2 separate regions of the Homo sapiens genome follow, and region 2 is linked to region 1. Evidence: fine-mapped expression QTL. A gene starts in region 1. The other region holds a variant in brackets. All regions are shown on one strand. Distances are from middle to middle.

The links.
Region 2: its variant is fine-mapped to the expression of PSMG3-AS1 in whole blood (INTERVAL, PIP 0.99).

The regions. Positions count from the first base shown.
Region 1 is chr7:1,566,994-1,572,357 of GRCh38, forward strand. PSMG3-AS1 (PSMG3 antisense RNA 1) reads left to right here and starts at 3,080. Exons shown (of 5, transcript NR_027329.1): 1 at 3,080-3,286. It overlaps PSMG3 (proteasome assembly chaperone 3), which reads right to left and starts at 3,039. Exons shown (of 2, transcript NM_032302.4): 1 at 2,131-3,039; 2 at 339-857. The coding sequence starts at 2,346. The coding sequence ends at 705. RefSeq lists enhancers at 1-493, 320-614, 494-1,062, 2,769-3,337, 3,961-4,030 and 1 more and silencers at 2,711-3,140, 3,581-3,660.
Region 2 is chr7:1,608,132-1,613,495 of GRCh38, forward strand. No RefSeq gene overlaps it. Among named protein-coding and RNA genes, the nearest start is that of PSMG3-AS1, 41 kb to the left of the region's middle. RefSeq lists enhancers at 1-419, 420-952, 953-1,484. The variant C/T (reference allele first, on the strand shown) is at 2,202.

The DNA.
Region 1 (5,364 bases):
GCACGCTGCTCCCTTGACAGAAGCGTCCCCCCTCCCTTGCTATGCAGGATTCAGAGGACAGCGTCTGTCCCCAGCTGCAGCACGGTAACGGGCACACACATTAAGATAGTAAGAGATGTCCGCTGACGGCCACCAGCTTCCCAGCAGGCTCAGAGAAGTTACTGGAGTTGGAGCTGGGTGACAGCGTGCACAGGCCCAAGCATGGGATCCACCCAGTTCCTGGGAACTACGTCCCTCTGCGTTTCTGCCCAACAAGCTTCCCTTCATGAAGCCCATGAAACTGAACTCATGCTGTGCGGCTGCAATGTCTCGCTACTGTTAAGGAGGACAGTGAAGTATTTTGGGATACACATTCGCTTTTAATAAAAAAGAAATTTCCTCCTACAATTGATCCTGCACACGGGGGGGCCATGAGCCACGCCTGCTGACTCATTCCTCCAATTCTCAAACACAAGCAACGATTCAGGTCCTGGTGAGAACCATTCACGACTCCTCCGGGACCTGTTCCACCCTCCCCGTCATGCACAGATGATCTTAGTAACCAGAGTAAGAGTCTGCCTGAGACACGAGTCTTTTTTCCTGGCTCCAAGGGCTAGTGCCAAAGTTCCTCCCTCCACCGGGGAGGGAGGTGAGACTTGAGTCCCTGAGTGGGTGTCTGGGTGTTCACGTGTCCTGCTGAGCAGCGCGGGGCGGCTGCCTCCAGGTCACCACACCTGGCACACCCGGATCACCTCCCTCAGCGCCTTCAGCCCCTCCATGCTTTTGTCCTTCACGGCCACGGCGAGGAGGACTGCTCTGTTTCCAGCTTCTTGAGACACAAACGCTACCAGGTTCTTTGCAAAGACATGGATGAGAGGCTGGTAAAGGAAGGAGAAGAAACCATTTTAACTGCAAGAAACCTGGTTTTTTCCTCAATGCTTTCATGAAGTATCCCTTAGGAACCCAGGCAGGCTTCCCACACCACCATTAACCGCCACATAAGTCCATGCAACTGTGACTCAGAGTTCTGGCAGCACTCAGAACACTCCAGTCACGGGCACACTGCTAAAGACCATCACTCCATTCATTTTCCCAGCGCCTTCCGCAGCCCCGCCTCTTCTGGCTCTCTCTCATCTAAAAGAACCCAGGAAAGAGAAGCCTGCAGAAGCGAGTGCTGTCGAATCTCACGTGTGATCTCCACAGAGCACAGCACAGCCAGCCGCCTGCTCACGTAATGTACCATGGCAGGGGAGGCGGCTCGAATGACAAAACTGCTGCTTCTGCTTGTCTGCTGGATAAAATGCCTGCGGGCTGGACAAAGCATCCACTGAGGGCAAGCAGGGCGCCTTGAGACCCACAAATGCCCGGAAAATGCTATCGCTGTAGGGGTATTTGTCCGCCAGATGCCCCATGTCCTTACTGACAAATCACAGCCACTGGAGAGGTTTATGCTCCTCCCTGGGGGTCCCTTCCTGACCACTTTATTATTATTATTATTATTATTATTATTAAAGACAGAGTCTTGCTCTCTCACCCAGGCTGGAGCGCAGTGGCACAATCATGGCTCACTGCAGCCTCAACCTCCAGGGCTCAAGCCATCCTCCCACCTCAGCCTCCCAAGTAGCTGGGAGCACAGGCACACACCACTAGGCCCAGCTAATTTTTTGTTTCCTTTTCTTTTCCTTTTTTTTTTAAGACCAAGTCTCTATCTGTTACCCAGGCTGGAGTGCTGTGGCACGATCTTAGCTCACTGCAACCTCCGCCTCTCGGGTTCAAGCGATTCTTCTGCCTCAGCCTCCTGAGTAGCTGAGATTACAGGCATGTGCCACCACACCCAGCTAATTTTTATATTTTTCGTAGAAATGGGGTTTCCCCATGTTGGCCAGGCTGGTCTGGAACTTCTGACCTTAAGTGATCTGCCCGCCTCAGCCTCCCAAAGTGCTGGGATTACAGGTGTGAGCCACTGCACCCAGCCTCTCTCTATATATATATTTTGTGTAGGCACTTGTTTTTTTGTAGTGACTTGTGTGTGTGTTGTTGTGTTGCCCAGGCTGGTTTCAAACTCCTGGCCTCAAGCGATCTGCCCGCCTAGGCCTCTGAAAGTGCTAGGGTTACAGGCGTGAGCCACAGTTCCCGGCCAATCCACTTTACCTCATCCTGCCCCAGAAGGACTTTTGTGGTGAGCACAGGCTTGCTGACGTCACTGGCCACGCTGCTGGGCTCCAGGGAGACCAGGGTGCCCATCTTCCCAAACTGGGTCACCACCACCAGGATGTGACTGCTGAAGGCCGTACACACCACCTGGGTGGGGACCCCGCACACCACCTCCGTCTTCTGCTTCGATATCACCAACGGCGTGTCTTCCATGGCGGGGCTCTGCAGTGGCAGCTTTAATTTAGGTTAAAAAGAAAGGGGAAAAAAAGGAGTCAATCAAACAGTACAGCCTTGGGGCTCCCAAAAAAGTAGCACGGGGCATTGAAACGGAAACGCAAGGAGGCCCATTCAAAAGAAGGGGCCAGGCGCGGTGGCTCATGCCTGTCATCCCGGCACTTTGGGAGGCCGAGACAGGACGATCGTTGAGGCCAGGAATTCGAGACCAGCCTGGCCAACATAGCGAGACCCCCATCTCTACCAAAAAAAAAAAAAAAAAAAACCAGCAGGGCGCGCCTGTGGTCCCAGTTACTCAGGAGGCTGAGGCGGGAAGATCGCTTCAGCCCGGGAGGTCGAGGCTGCGGTGAGCCGTGATCACACCATTGCATTACAACCCGGGCGGTAGAGCGAGACCCTGTCCGTAAAAAAATAAAACAGAAGCAGGAGCGGGGCCGCCCATAGAGACCGCGCCTGGGGCTTTCTGGGTTAGGGGATCGACTTGCACGTTCACACTGCCAGGCCGGGCAGTGGCTTCCCGCCCCTCGGCCTCGCCGCCGCCCCGGCCCTGCAGCCGCGGCCCGGGACCCCCACGACACGCGGTGCCGAGGCCGGCCGGGCTACTGGGGACGCAGCCGCCCGGGGAAGCCCGCGGGTACCCGCGCTCACCAAGCCGGCGCCGCGCCCGGAAGTGGCTCTGCGTGCGCCACGCGGGCCCGCCCCGTCCGCGGGTTCCGTCCACCTTCCGGAAGTCAGGGCCGCGGCGCTTCTGGTCCCGGAGACTTGGGGCTCCCGGGCTTCTGAGCGGCTCGGGTTCCGCGCTGCCGGCAGGGCTTGGGGGCGCCTTAGAGCCGAACCCCGTTTTTTCAGGAAAGGGCGCTGCGACCACCCCCGTCCCGGGCCTCAGCCCCTCTGCTGCAGACCCTCGGGATCGTCGCTGGTAGGAGCTCTGTCCCCCGTGTCTGTGTCCAGGACCCCCGAAGCGCCGCGCCTAGGAACCCCCTAGCGCTGGGAGCCCGGCCCTGCTCGACCACGGGCTTTGGGCTGGAGGCGTCATCGTCGCCACAGCGAACGCTTATTTGGCACCGAGTGTCCGCCAGGCATCGCTCTAAGCGCTTTATACCCATAACTCACTTCATCTCAGCCACCCGGTTCCGTAGAAGCGTTTCATCCGCGTTTTACAGACGTGTGCAGGTGCAGAGAGCTCGGCCAGGCTCAGGCGGCGGGCGGGCTGGGGTGGGCTCCGACCGTCCCTCGGGCGCTCCGTGACACGAAGCCCCGGCCAAGGCCAAGAAGGGGGCCAGCCCCACCCTGAAGCGGGATGAGTTCTGGTTCCTCCCAGGGACCCCCTCACTCCCTACTGCTCACTCTCAGTTTCTCCAAGCTGGAAGGTTTTTTGTTTTGTTTTGTTTGAGACGGAGTCTTGCTGTGTCACCCAGGCTGGAGTGCAGTGGCGCGATCTCGGCTCACTGCAGCCTCCGCCTCCCTGGTTCAAGCAATTCTCCTGCCTCAGCCTCCTGTGTAGCTGGGATTACAGGCGTGCGCCACCAGGCCCGGCTAACTTTTTAAATTTTTAGTAGAGATGGGGTTTCACCATGTCGGTCAGGCTGGTCTTGAACTCCTGACCTCAGGTGATCTGCCTTCCTCGGCCTCCCAAAGTGCTGGGATTACAGGCGTGAGCCACCGCGCCCCGCTGCTGGAAGTTTTATTGGTAGGGTCGGACATCTTGGTAGCAGAGGCTGAAAGTGATTGGAGCCTCCAGAGCCTTCCTCGGGGTGGGGCGTTTAACATCCCTTCAGAACCCCACCCTCGGAGGCCTTACTGTCGTTTCCTGACAACCATGTCAAGGCCGTATTTTCTGTCTATATTACCAGAAAGGGGTCCCGATCCAGACCCCAAGAGAGAATTGAGGGCGAGTCCACAAAGTGAAAGCAAGTTTATTAGAAAAGTAAAGGAATTGAGGCAGGAAAACAGGGTCTGGAGGCAGGGAACACTTCAGCTATGACAGGAAATACCCTCTCCATAGGGTGTACACTGAGTAAATGATTTTGTAACTTTATTTCATCCTCTTTATTTACATAGGGCGTACACCAAGTAACCAGTAGAAACCCCTAGAGGGTATTTAAACCTCACAAGTTCTGTAATGGGGCCCTGAGCCTCTATGCTTTGGCCGCCCCCACACCATGGAATGTACTTTCATTTTCAAAAAATTTCTGCTTTTGTTGCTTCATTCTTTTTTTGCTTTGTGCATTTTTTTTTTTTTGAGACAGAGTCTCTGTTGTCCATGCTGGAGTGCAGTGGCGTGATCCTCACTGCAACCTCTGCCTCCCGGGTTCAAGCAATTCTCCTGCCTCAGCCTCCTGAGTAGCTGAGATTACAGACGTGCGTCACCATGCCCGGCTAACTTTTGTGTTTTTAGTAGAGACGAGGTTTCGCCATGTTGGCCAGGCTGGTCTTGAACTCCTGACCTCAGGTGATCTGCCCGCCTCGGCCTCCCAAAGTGCTGGGATTATAGGTGTGAGCCACCGCGCCCGGTGGCTTTGTGCATTTTGTCCAATTCTTTGTTCAAGATGCCAAGAACCTGGACACCCTCCACCAGTAACAGAATAAAGAATGGCTACTCCATAGGCAGAGCAGCATGGGCTGCTGGTTGCCCATTTTTGTGGTTATTTCTTGATGATATGCTAAACAAGGGGTGGATTATTCGTGCCTTACCTTTTTAAACCCTTTAGGGTAACGTCCTGGCATTGCTATGGCATTTGTAAACTTACGGCGCTGGTGGGAGTGTAGCAGCTGGGACGACCAGAGGTCACACTCATCGCCATGTTGGTTTGGTGGGTTTTGGTCAGCTTCTTTACTGCAAACTGTTTTATCAGTAAGGTCTTTATGACCTGTAGCTTGTGCCGACCTCTTATCTCATCCTGTGACATAGAATGCCTTAACTGTCTGGGAATGCAGCCCAGCAGATCTCAGCCTCATTTTACCCAGCCCCTATTCAAGATGAAGTTGCTCTGGTTC
Region 2 (5,364 bases), 41 kb after region 1:
GATCGAGAAGTCAGCATGCATTTATCCTGCAGCGATGAGTCCTCCCACAGGCGATCCGTGTGGCTCTGGGGGTGCAGAGTCCTACCACAGGCGATCCCGGGGGCTCCGGGGGTGCAGAGTCCTCCCACGGGGGATCCTGGGGGCCCCGGGGGTGCAGAGTCCTCCCATGGGGGATCCCGGGGGCTCCAGAGGTGCAGAGTCCTCCCACGGGGGATCCAGGGGGCTCTGGGGGTGCAGAGTCCTCCCACGGGGGATCCAGGGGTCTCTGGGGGTGCATGGGAGTCCTCATAATCTCCCCATCCTGGGGGCCCAGGGCAGGCTGGACAGGAGTGGCCAGGAGGGAGCTGGGCCTCGCAGGTGTGATGTGGTGGAAATGTTCCCGGCTGATGGAGCAGCATGTTCAAAGGCCAGCACCCCTGGGGAGCTGCAGGTCTTTCCGTCCAACAGGAACCTGTGTTCAGCTCGAGGGGGACAGTGGGCACCAATGCGACTGGAGAGCTGGAGACAGATGGGGCTTGGAAGTCACGCCAAGGGATCTGGATCTCACCTTGTGGGCACTGGGGAGCCTTGGAGAGGGGGATTACAGGCAGGGCCAGAGGGCAGACTTGGCCTTTAGACGATCTCAGTGACCACCCAATTCAGGGGCTGGATTGAAGGGGTTAATTCCTGCAGCGGGGAGGCTGATGTTTAGAGCATGTCCCTCAGGGCTTGTAGATGAGCGGAAAGAGCCCAACTCCAATAAGATGAAGTAAATAGCAGGGAATTTAGCGGCTCACAGAACTGGGAAACGCAGGCCTTCAGGTTTGGCTGGTCAAGGGTACCACTGAGATCTCCTCTCTGGGTCCCTCTCTTTCTGGGGATGGATTTCCTCCTTGCTGCTGGGGACAGTGGCCACCAGATGTTCTAAACGCCCATCCTCCCAGCATTGTGACCCAAAGGGTGACAGCAATCATTCTGTCTGGGAGAGAATTTCCAGGAAAGACCGAGTCATGTGCCCGAGCTGCTCGGCATGGCCCGGGGGTCAGCTGGTCTCGTGCTGGGGAGGGGTCGGCTCCATGACTGGCAGCTCGGCTCTGGCCACAGTGCACCAGGGATGCTGGGGCAGGTGATGGGCTGGCGTGCTTTGTGCAGCCACTGGTCCAGGCAGTGCATCGGGGATAGGCTTGGGCCTGCATAGGGGGCAGTGGGGAGACAGCTTGGTGAAGAACTTCCAGAGACATCTAGAAGGTCAAATAGACAGGATTTGGTGATTGACCAGATGTAGAAAGAAGGTGGGATCAAGAAATGCTTTCCAGGGCCGGGCGCGGTGGCTCACGCCTGTAATCCCAGCACTTTGAGAGGCCGAGACGGGCGGATCACCTGAGGTCAGGAGTTCGAGACCAGCCTGACCAACATGGTGAAATCCTGTCTCTACTAAAAATACAAAACTTAGCCGGGTGTGGTGGCGTGCACCTGTAATCCCAGCTATTCTGGAGGTTGAGGCAGGAGAACTGCTTGAGGTTTCAGTGAGCTGAGATTGTGCCACTGCACTCCAGGCAGGGCAACACAGAGAGACTCCATCTCAAAACAAAAAAAATAAAAGGAAAGAAAGAAAGAAAAAAAAGAAATGATTTCCAGGGTTCTGCTTTGATCAGCTGGTTAGGCAGTTGGTGTCATTCGCTGTGGTAGGAGACTGAGTAAGGGGAGCGGTTCCTGCAGGGCGTCTGGAGGTGCTGGCCTCCAAAGAGAGACATTTAGGGACCATCCATGGGGGTGGTTATTCGAGGTAAGGTCACAGGTGAGCTCCCCTAGGGAGGGGGAGTGAGTGAGAGGGCAAGAGAGCCTCAAAGTGAACCTCTAGGAGCCCCACAGTTGCGGGCTGGCTCAATCGGGGCTGAGAGAGAAGTCAAGGAGGCAGGAGGAGAAGCGGGGGGCTGGGGAGCTCCGGGAAGAGAGCTTCAAGGGGGAGAAGGTGGGCACCTGTGTCTCAGGTGCCACAGCGCAGCAGGCTTGGCTGGACCTTGGCTGAGTCTGCAGCCTGGCACTGTCTGCCTTCCCCGGCTCCCAGCATGACTTGCAGCTCCTCTTCCCACCACGCCGGCCTGGCACTGGGTCTCCCTTGTGGACCCCACGCACTGGGCTGTCACTGGACTCAGGTTGCCCTGGCTGGTCGTACAGAGCTTGCTGTGCCCAGCCTGGACACCCCCGGAGGTGGCGAGCAG[C/T]GGGCATCAGACCTCTCCCGCACCCTTTCGTCTTCCCATGAGTCTGACCACACAGTGCGGGCTGCCCACTCGTGAGCCCCCGGGGGAAGGGCTAACGTTATCTGCATTTTGCACGTGGGGAAAATGAGGCTGAGAAAGGGGTCAGGAGCTGAGGATGGAAAGAGCTAAGATGGGTCTCCAGGAAAGCAGGTTCCCATGCACCGGTCAGCACCCCCCTCCTGCTTCCTGCACCATTCATGAGACCCCTCCATAGGGCTGAGGCCCACCCAGCGAGGGAAACGCCGATGATGAGGGAGGGAGGGACCTCTCAGCGCCCAAGAATGTGACCAGCCTCCCAGGGCGGGGTATCTGCATGGGGACAGGCCTGGGGCCCCCCTGCAGGCCAGACAGAAGGAGCCACTGAGGGCCCAGCTGGCAGACCGCAGCCTGGGGGGTGGGGGCAGCGGGGCGGCGGGGGCAATGGCTCTGAGGGTGGGCGAGGACCAAGTGCCGCCAAGGAGCGATAATGATGGCTTGAGTCAAAGCCGCCCCGCGTCTCGCCCGCGCTGGCATCTCCAGCAGCACCGTGCCAATTAAAGATGAGTTGAGCATATCATTAGTTTCCCAATCGTCAAGAATCTCATTAGGGGAGTCTTAGATCCACCTGAGCAGCTCTGCCGATTGTCCACACTGGAGCTGCCGAGCTGGGGGCAGGGGGAGTTGCTGCGTGTTGATGAGTCGTAGCGGGGTTTTGCCAGGCAGGGCGCTGGATTGAACCGGCCCAGCAGTGCCCAGGGCCTAGGTCTCCTGGCTGACTGGTCAGTGGTCCTCAGCCTGTGTCTCCCTCCTCCAGTGGGGTGATGGGCTAGACTGGTCAGAAATCTACTGGGCGTCAGTTCGGATGCCACATTTCGACCAGACTTGGCTCAGGGGCCATCTCGTCTACCCCATCATTTTATAATGGGAGAAACAGAGGCCCACAGAGGTGGGGGAGCCCCTGGGATACACAGGGGCTGGAAGAGACCCATAGAGCTTGGTCTAATCCAACCCTAAAGCAGATCAGACTCCCATCTCTGTTGTCTCAGCTGAGTGACCATTTCACTTGTGCCTTTTTTTTATTTTGAGACCGAGTCTTGCTCTATTGCCAGGCTGGAGAGCAGTGGTGTGATCTCGGCTCACTGCAACCTCCGCCTCCTGGGTTCAAGCGATTCTCCTGCCTCAGCCTCCCGAGTATCCCAAGTAGCTGGGATTATTGGCATCCGCCACCATGCCTGGCTAATTTTTGTATTTTTAGCAGAGGTGGGGTTTTGCCATGTTGGCCAGGCTGGTCTTGAACTCCTGACCTCAAGCGATCCGCCTACCTCGGCCTCCCAAAGTGCTGGGATTACAGGCGTGAGCCACAATGCCCAGCTGCACCTCGTTTATAACAAAGAGGCCCCACCCTTCCCTTGGCCTCTTGTTCCATCTGTGCCCATCAGGGTCCTTTACTAATGAGTCACAGAGACCTGGCTCAAATTTGCTGAGGCAAGAAAGGAATTTCCTAGAAGTCAGGACTCTGTGGTTTTGCAACAGAAGGAAGGCTCAGAGATCCCAGGACGTCTCCAGCCTCATCCCTGCTGCTCTCAGCACATCTACCTCTGGCCGGGCAGCCTCTTCCTCCTGGGGGGTGGGGATGGGGTTACTGGGGGACAGAGAGCTCCAGAGCCACATGCCATGCCATCTGCCACCGGGCGGGATCTGCGCGTCTTTCTTTAGCCTCAGCTGGGAAAACCCCACGGAAGGACTGTGCATGGCCTGGCTTGGTCAGTTGCTCACCCTGAGTCCATACGGCAGCTTCCATTAGAACTGCCTGGCTGGGGTTTATTCATTCATCTCACGTTCACTAAGACTGGGCTGTGTGTCAGACATTGTTCTGTATCTATCTGGGAGAGGCAGACCATAAACAAGGGAACCAGTAATAAAGATAATTCAGATAGTGATAGGTGCTCTAAAGATGACGAGCAGGCATGCCTGTAATCCCAGCACTTTGGGAGGCTGAGGCGGGTGGATCACGAGGTCAAGAGTTCAAGACCAGTCTGGCCAACATGGTGAAACCCCATCTCTACTAAGAATACAAAAATTAGCCGGGCATGGTGGCATGTGCCTGTAATCCCAGCTACTCAGGAGGATGAGGCAGGAGAATCTCTTGAATCCGGGAGGCGGAGGTTGCAGTGAGCCGAGATCGCGCACCTGCACTCCAGCCTGAGCAACAGAGCAAGACTCCGTCTCGAAAAAGAAAAAAGAAAAGATTATGAGCGGGGTGCTTGAGGGGTGATATTAGCTAGGACGGTCAGTGAGGCCACAGGTAGTTGTGGAGGAAGAACGCTCCGGGCAGAGGGAACAGAGAGTGCAAAGGCCCTGGAGCAGGAACAGGTTTAGTGTGTATCAGAAAGGGGGCCAATGTGGGCTGGGTGCGGCGGCTCACACCTGTAATCCCAGAACTTTGGGAGGCCAAGGCGGTGGATTGCCTGAGCTCAGGAGTTCAACACCAGCCTGGGCTACGTGGTGAAACCCCATCTCTACTAAAATACAACACATTAGCCGGGCTTGGTGACACATGCCTGTAGTCGCAGCTACTCGGGAGGCTAAGGCACGAGAATTGCTTGAATTTGGGAGGCGGATGTTGCAGTGAGCTGAGATCAGGCCACTGCACTCCAGCCTGGGCCACAGAGCAGCAAAACTCTGTCTCAAAAAAAAAAAAAAAAAAAAGAAAAAAGAAAAAGAAAAAGAAAAGAAAGAAAGGTTGGCCCATGTGGCTGTTGGTGCATGATACATTTGAAGCCTGACATTTGAAGTGTCACACACACTTTGTGTGTGTGTGACAGGGTCTTTCTTTGTTACCCAATGTGGAGTGCAGTGGCGTGCTTGTAGATCACTGCAGCCTCAACCTCCTGGGCTGAAGTGATCCTCCTGCCTCAGCCTCCTGAGTAGCTGGGACCACAGGTGCATACCACCACACCCTGCTATTTTTTTTTTTTTTTTTATAGAGATGGGGTCTCACAGTTGCCCGGGCTGGTCTTGAACTCCTGAGCTCAAGTGATCCTCCTTCCTTGGCCTCCCAAAGTGCTGGGATTATAGGTGTGAGCCACTGTGCTTGGCCATCCCTATAAACTTTATACAGTTAATCAGAGGCTGGGCACGGTGG